Regions from separate parts of the Homo sapiens genome. Here region 2 is linked to region 1. The links come from fine-mapping of genetic effects on gene expression. Tissue or cell type: whole blood. Region 1 holds a variant in brackets; the other region holds the start of a gene. All regions are shown on one strand. Distances are from middle to middle.

Evidence for each region. PIP is the estimated chance that this variant, and not a neighbour inherited with it, causes the effect.
Region 2: it holds the start of GAPVD1, and the variant in region 1 is fine-mapped to the expression of GAPVD1 in whole blood (TOPMed, PIP above 0.99).

Annotation. Positions count from the first base shown.
Region 1 is chr9:125,350,337-125,354,577 of GRCh38, forward strand. GAPVD1 (GTPase activating protein and VPS9 domains 1) reads left to right here. Exons shown (of 28, transcript NM_001282680.3): 22 at 1-68; 23 at 377-536. Among named protein-coding and RNA genes, the nearest start is that of GAPVD1, 91 kb to the left of the region's middle. RefSeq lists a silencer at 2,511-2,684. The variant C/T (reference allele first, on the strand shown) is at 1,983.
Region 2 is chr9:125,259,169-125,263,409 of GRCh38, forward strand. GAPVD1 (GTPase activating protein and VPS9 domains 1) reads left to right here and starts at 2,658. Exons shown (of 28, transcript NM_001282680.3): 1 at 2,658-2,791. RefSeq lists silencers at 2,555-2,736, 2,675-2,804.

The sequences.
Region 1 (4,241 bases):
CTCTGTTGCCTTCCCAGTGCTGACCCATTCAACAAGGAATGGTTTACCAGACCACACAGACCCAGAAGGTAAATTGCTGCAGGATCGTTTAATTTTTCCTATGTTTATGGGTTGCACCATATGAAATTGCCAGTATTCAGCTGTTGAAGCTGTACAGCAATTCCATATGGTTCAACTTAATATGTTTACATTAGTATCACTTAAGGGCACTTTGATTACTGATGATTTATTAAAGTATTTTCTAATTGGGAGTGGCAATACAGCTTAGTTCTAATGATACGTGACAAAGCAGAATTGACGTCCCAAATGCTGAATTAGCTTATTTAAGCACATGGAAATTCTCAAGAATAACAGAATTCTTGTATCTTTTATTTAGACAATGAAATTGTATGCTTCTTAAAAGTTCAAATAGCTGAAGCAATTAATTTACAAGATAAGAATCTAATGGCTCAACTTCAAGAAACAATGCGCTGTGTGTGCCGTTTTGATAATAGGACTTGTAGGAAACTGCTGGCTTCGATTGCTGAGGACTACAGGTAATATACCCCACCTGTTCAGCTTTTAAACCTAGTTGTTAGCTGCAAGTGTTTTCTTTTTTATCCTTATTTCAGAAATGAATCTAGGCTTCCTACAAAGTGCTTGGCTGTATTTTCCTGGATGTAGATTTCTGTGTTAGTCTGTTCTCACGCTGCTGATAAAGATATACCCGAGACTAGCCAATTTACCAAAGAAGAGGTTTATTGGACTTACAGTTCCATGTGGCTGGGAGGCCTCACAATCATGGCGGAAGGTGAAAGGCACATCTCACATGGCAGCAGACAAGAGAAGAGAACTTGTTCAGGGAAACCCCCCTTTTTCAAAACCATCAGATCTTGTGAGACTTATTCACTATCACGAGAACAGCACAGGAAAGACCTGTCCCCATTGATTCAATTACCTCCCACTGGGTCCCTCCCACAACACATGGGAATTCAAGATGAGATTCGGGTGGGGACACAGCCAAACCATATCTTTCTGCCCCTTGCTTCTCCCAACTCATGTTCTCACATTTCAAAACCAATCATGCCTTCCCAACAGTTGCCCAAAGTCTTAACTCATTTTAGCATTAACTCAAAAGTCCACAGTCAAAAATTTCATCTGAGACAAGGCAAGTCCTTTCTGCCTATGAACCTGTAAAATCAAAATCAAGTTAGTTACTTCCTAGATACAATGGAGGTGCAGGCATTGGGTAAATACAGCCATTCCAAATGAGAAAAATTGGCAGAAACAAAGGGGCTACAGGCCCCATCCAAGTCTGAAATCCAGCAGGGCAGTCAAATCTTAAAGCTTCAAAATGAACTCCTTTGACTCCGTGGCTCACATCCAGGTCACGCTGATGCAAGAGGTGGGTTCCCATGGTCTTTCTTTTTTTTTTTTCCCCCGAGATGGAATTTCGCTCTTGTTGCCCAGGCTGGAGTGCAATGGTGCGATCTTGGCTCACTGCAACCTCTGCCTCCTGGGTTCAAGCAGTTCCCCTGCCTCAGCCTCCCAAGTAGCTGGGATTACAGGCATGCGCCACCACGCCTGGCTAATTTTGTATTTTTTAGTAGAGATGGGATGTCACCATATTAGCCAGGCTGGTCTTGAACTCCTGACCTCAAGTGATCCACCTAACTCAGCCTCCCAAAGTGCTGGGATTACAGGTGTCAGCCACCACACCCAGCCAGGGTTCCCATGGTCTTAGGCAGCTCCGCTCCTGTGGCTTTGCAGGGTATAGCCACTTTTCTGGCTGCTTTCATGGGCTGGTGTGGAGTTGCTGGCTTTTCTAGGTGCACGGTGCAAACTGTCAGTGGATCTGCCATTCTGAATTCTGGAAGACAGTGGCTCTCTTCTCACAGCTCTACTAGGCAGTGCCCCAGTAGGGACTCTTTGTGGGGGCTCCGATCCCACATTTCCTTTCCGCACTGCCCTTGCAGAGGTTCCCCATGAGGACCCTGCCCCTG[C/T]GGCAAACTTCTGCCTGGGCATCCAGGCGTTTCTATACATCTTTTGAAATCTAGGTGGAGGTTCCCAAACCCCATTCTTGACTTCTGTGCACCCACAGGCTCAACACCTCATGGAATCTGCCGAGGCTTGGGGCTTGCACTCTCTGAAGCCACAGCCTGAGCTCTGTGTTGGCCCCTTTCAGCCATGGCTAGAGCGGCCGGAGGGCAGGGCACCAAGTCCCTAGGCTGCACACAGCATGGGGACCCTGGGCCTGGCCCATGAAACCATTTTTCCTCCTAGGCCTCTGGGCCTGTGATGAGAGGGTCTGCCATGGAGACCTCTGACATGCCCTGGAGACATTTTCCCCATTGTCTTGGGAATTAATATTCAGCTCCTCATTACTTATGCAAATTTCTATAGCCAGCGTGAATTTCTTCTCAGAAAATGGGATTTTGTTTTCTATCGCATTGTCAGGCTGCAAAGTTTCTGAACGTTTATGCTCTGTTTCCCTTATAAAACTGTATGCTGGCCAGCATGGTAGCTCATGCCTGTAATCCTAGCACTTTGGGAGGCCAAGGCAGGTGGATCACCCGAGGTCAGGAGTTCAAGACCAGCCTGGCTGACATGGTGAAACTCTGTCTCTCCTAAAAATACAAAAAATTAGCTAGGTATGGTGGTGGGTTCCTGTAATCCTAGCTACTTGGGAGGCTGAGACAGGAGAATCGCTTGAACCTGGAAGCGGAGGTTACAGTGAGCTGAGATCACGCCACTGCACTCCAGGCTGGGCAACAAGAGTGAAACTCTGTCTCAAGAAAAAAAAAAAAATGAATACCTTTAATAGCACCCAAGTCACCTCTTGAATGCTTTGCTGCTTAGAAATTTCTTCTGCCAGATACTCTAAATCATCTTTCTCAAGTTCAAAGTTCCACAAATCTCTAGGGCAAGGGCAAAATGCCACCAGTGTCTTTGCTAAAACATAACAAGAGTCACCTTTGCACCAGTTCCCAACAAGTTCCTCATCTCCACCTCAGCCTGGACCTTATCGTTCATATCACTGTCAGCATTTTCGTCAAAGCCATTCAACAAATCTCTAGGAAGTTCCATACTTTCCCACATTTTCCTGTCTTCTTCTGAGCCCTCCAAACTGTTCCATCCTCTGCCTGTTACCCAGTTCCAAAGCTGCTTTCACATTTTCGGGTGTCTTTTTAGCAGTACCCCACTCTCGGTACCAATTTACTGTATTTGTCTGTTATTATGCTGCTGATAAAGACATACCTGAGACTGGGCAATTTAACAAAAGAAAGAGGTTTAATTGGACTTAACAGTTCCATGTGGCTGGGGAGGCCTCAAAATTATGGCGGAAAGTGAAAGGCACATTTCACATGGCAGCAGACAAGAGAAGAGAGCTTGTGCAGGGAAATTCCGTTTTTTAAAACAATCAGATCTCTTGAGACTTAGTATCACGAGAACAGCACAGGAAAGACATGCCTCCATGATTCAATTCCCTCCCACAACACATGGAAATTCAAGATGAGATGTGGGTGGGGAATACAGCCAAATCATATCAATTTCTAAGCAACATATTTGGATATTTACTCTGGAAATGTAGTTACAAATGAGCAGTTCCAAATAGAAGAGTGCAATTTACTTCAGCTTTGCACAAAAGCAGGTAAAGAGGTATGCCTATATTTTGAGGCTAGAACAACTAGAATATCATATTTCTTTTCTTAGTGGTGATAGGAAAGCCTACTTTCCTGGACCAGAGAAGCAGATGTAAGTAGCCTTAGGAATTGCTGTGCTTTTTCTGCTGCCAGTCCCCTGCTCATGATTATGGAGAAAAATGTAACTGAGATGCTTAGGTAGTGAGGAGGCTTCAAGGCTTAGGGAATGGGCACTCTAGTAAATGTGACATTTAGACTATAAGCAAGTAATTGGTGGGGGATGTTTGTGACCTAGTGACATATAACCTGTATTTGTTGTTATTGTTGGTCATCTGTAGCTGTCAATTTCCTATTAAGTATGAGGTCCTATAGCTCCAGTATAAAATACACCAAGTATGCAGAGGGGCTTAGTAACATTTAGTGAATTAGGTAACTAAGTCTTCAGCCCCATAGATCCTCCCAAACAAAATGCAAAATGGGTGTCTGTTCTGCAGCTGGCACCATGATCAGTCTCTACCATGTCTGCAGCCTGACATGCTACTTTGTATATGTGCTACTGAAGAGAGCACAGACATGCTACTTTGTAAAACCAGTCTGTGCAGTAATTTTTCTAAAGAA
Region 2 (4,241 bases), 91 kb before region 1:
TTGTAGTGATCCATAGTTCTAGCAGGAGATTTGAATTCCTTGAGTGTGCTGACTGGAAAAAAAAAAGAAAATTGCTTGTTAGTTCAAGTTCTTCATTTGTAGGTGACAGAACAGGGCTCAGAAGATTAACTGACCATTCTAGTTCCTTTTTTACTTCTCACATGCAATGCAGCTTCCCTGAAGATTCTTTTGCAACTTTTGGGGCCTCTCCTTCCCTTCCTCCCTGGCCTGGGTGCTCCAGCCTACCCAGACGCAGTGTTCCAGAGCCCACTGTGAATGTGGTTTTGCTAAGGCTGAGTTCTTCCTTAGCAGTCCACGAATGCCATCTCTTGTCTTGAAATCCAGCCATCCAGTAACTCCTAACTGTCACCTCTTCCATAAGGTCATGAACCCTCAACTTGAAAAGGCCATTCTCTCTGAGAATCTCAGAATGCTTTGTACCTTGGCTTATTATGATGATCCTTAATCTGTGGCAGTTTCATCCTACCCTAGATTGTAAATTGTATCCTCTTGCTTATTTCTTTTCTTTTTTTTTTTTTCTTGAGACAGAGTCTCGCTCTGTCGCCCAGGCTGGAGTGCAGTGGCACGATCTCCACTCACTGCAAGCTCCGTCTCCCGGGTTCACGCCATTCTCCTGCCTCAGCCTCCCGTGTAGCTGGGACTACAGGCGCCTGCCACCATGCCCGGCTAATTTTTTGTATTTTTAGTAGAGACAGGTTTCTACCGTGTTAGCCAGGATGGTCTCGATCTCCTGACCTCATGATCCGCCCACCTCGGCCTCCCAAAGTGCTGGGATTACAGGCGTGAGCCACTGCGCCCGGCCTCCTCTTGCTTATTTCATGCCAGCGGTGCATTGAGTAATGTCTTGTAACAGAGCTGATTGAATTCCTGAATGAGTTGAATGGCAGCACGATAGCAATAACATCTGACCAGCCTACCATAGGTGGTTCTATTACTACCTATGTAGTCATAAAACAAGGCAATAAATATGAAGCAATTCTGTCAATGTTGTTGTTGCTGTTTTGTTTTGAGACAGGTTTCACTCTGCTGCCCAGGATGGAGTTCAGTGGCATGATCACAGCTCACTGCAGCCTTGACCTTTTTGGGCTTGGTGATCCTCCCACTTCAGCCTCCCTAGTAGCTGGGACTACAGGTGCAAGCCACCATGCCTCGCTGATTTTTGTATTTTTTGTAGAGTTGGGGTTTCACTATGTTGCTCAGGCTGGTCTTGAACTTCTGGGCTCAAGCAATCCTCCTGCCTTGGCCTCGCAAAGTGCTAGGATTATAGGCATATGCCACCATGCCCCTAAAGGTGACATCAAGAGAGGTGAGTAGATAGAAAGCAGTTTGGGAGTTGATTGACATTTGAAATAGCTGGGGAAATGATTATTACTTTTTTCCTTTTTTTGCCTGGAGACTCCCAGTATTGGAGGATATAATCATTGTTCTCAATTTTTTGAAGATCTGTCAAGTGGAAGACATTCTGTATTGCTCCAGGCAGCCTAACTACCAGCAATGGAAGGAAATAAAGGGAAACAGATTTCAGCTCAGCAGGAGGCAGAACTTTCTAACATTTAGAGCTGTCCAACAGTGGAGCAGGCTGCATTACTTGAGGGAGTGAGCTCCCTGAAATTTGAACTGTTGAACAGGAAGATGACCATCTGGCTGAATGTACAGGAGGGAATTCCTGCCTGGGCAACAGTTGCACTAGTGACCTTTAAGCAGGTATCTTCCAATTTTAAGGTTTCTAGACTGTTCAACTCAGCTAACTTGACCTCTGAATATATGAGTTATGGTGTTACAAAAATTATTAGACAGTTCATTTATTGACTTACCTAAAATAACTGCATGGTGAAGTTTATGATAAGCAAGATTTTAGAAACTGAGAAGTGGGAAGGCAGGTTTTACACTGAAAATCCAGATACCATCCAAACCAATTAATGGCACTTAGAACAAAAGGGAAGGGAGGGGCCGGCAGCGGTGGCTCACGCCTGTAATCCCAGCACTTTGGGAGGCCGAGGCGGGCGGATCACGAGGTCAGGAGATCGAGACCATCCTGGCTAACACGGTGAAACCTCGTCTCTACTAAAAATCAAAAAATTAGCCGGGCGTGGTGGCGGGCGCTTGTAGTTCCAGCTACTTGGGAGGCTGAGGCGGGAGAATGGCGTGAACCCGGGAGGCGGAGCTTGCAGTGAGCCGAGATTGAGCCACTGCACTCCAGCCTGGGCGACAGAGCCAGACTCCGTCTCGAAAAAAAAAAAAAAAGGGAAGGGAGGTTTGTAAGTAGTGTGTGCGTACGTGTGAGAGAGAAACAGAGAAGAGAGAGAGTCATTCATGCGAATAATGTGTCCTGGGCAACTGAGCGTTGTCACAGAAAGCATAAAACGCTCTACATTTTTGCTTTACACATACTTGCTCAGTCGGATTCTTCACGTCCAGCATTACTGCAGGCGGAAACCAGGGCCCAGGCCTGGTGAACAGCCTTCCGGAAGACGATTCCGGACCCGGACACCCACGACAGCCTCAGGGGGCAGCTGACCTAGGGCTGCCTAAGGCGGAAGTGGGAGCCCCTAGCCGCCCGGGCGGAACTACAGCTCCCAGAGGCCCCCGCGGCGCTGCGCACGCGCGCTGGCGTGGCGGCAGCGCCGCTGCAGGACGCAGGGAAGCCAACAGGCGAGTGGCGAAGGTGGCGGCAGCGGCGGCGGGGGCAGTCACCGGCTAGGGCGACGGCTCCGAGGCCGAGTGGCGGTCCGACAGAGTCCTCCGTGTCCTCCCCCGCATGACCCCCTTGGTGAGTACGCGTCCCGATTTAGTCCGCGGGCTGTGAGCGGCTCCCTGCCTCGCGGCCGGGTTGCTCCGGCCTAGGGCCGCAGCCTGTCTCTGACTGCCCGGCCGTCAGGTCCAACTGACCCCGGGGTCCTGGGCTCTTCCCGTCAGTGTCGGGCGAGGTGGGGGTCGGGGGACACTGGGTTAGACCCAGGGGAGAGATGTGGCGGCGCGCAGGAGCCAGGGCGGCCTGGGGCTGAGGAGAGGGAGAGACGCGTGGGGGATGGGATGGGAAGGGACAGGAGGACCGCGGGGCGGCCTCGGGTGGGGGCCAGAGACGAGAGGCCCGGCAGGTAGGGAACTGAGTATAGGAGGCGAGAACGAAATGGAATGTCTTCTGAGTGTCGCTGATAAAGATATCGTGCTGCAGGGAAGCTTGACAAGCTGGACACACGGGTCTGGGGGCAGCCCACCTAACACAGACACTCACTGTACTTGGCATCTTTCCACTTGCTGTCGGAGGTCTGAAAGTGAGGGAGCTGTTGGTTGTTTCCATCCCTTTTCTTTTAACTTCACCTTTTATTGACTGGCAAAATTGTAGTGAGTGCTGGCTAGGCAAACCACAGAAGTACACCCAGGGTTCTGTGTATAAATGTGCATAAAAACAGGGAGACATAGTGATAGGTTCAGATGAGAACTAGGTCAAAGGAGGAATCAGTGTTTTTATTTTTAAATTTATGACGAAAATCAGTTCTGAGCAGGACTTTGAACTAGAGAGGGGTTTTAAACTGGAGTTCATTGATGGATAGAATTAGAAGGGTCCTTTCACTAGAAGGAGGATAAAATGACATCATTATTTTTATTGACTGCTAACTGAAACTTATTATTTCCTTCAGTTACGAATGTGGACAACAAGCCAGAGTAGCATTAGCAGCGCCTATGACTTTGTGATCAATAAAAATTACGGATATTTTTGCATCATGTTTACAGTTGCAGATAGCTCAGAATATCATTTATGGTTAACACTTCTTTGAATTTCTGGTGTTACTAGACCCGCCGTTAGACATTGTTATTTAATGTGATAATAAGGCTGTACATATATTATGACCATATTAGTTTGTTGTTTTGCTAATATTTCCATATAATTGGTTTCCCTTGTAATCACATGTATTTAATTATGCACTTAAAAGAAATCTGAGAAAGGGACCATAGGCTTCACCAAACTGCCAATGAGGTCCGTGCACAAAAAGATTAAGAACTCCTGAAATAATTTGGGAGGCCGAGGCGGGCGGATCATTGAGGTCAAGAGATCGAGACCATCCTGGCCAACATGGTGAAACCCCATCTCTACTAAAAATACAAAAATTAGTTGGGTGTGGTGGCCCATGCCTGTAATCCCAGCTACTTGGGAGGCTGAGGCAAGAGAATCACTTGAGCCCGGGAGGTGGATATTGCAGTGAGCCAAGATCACGCCA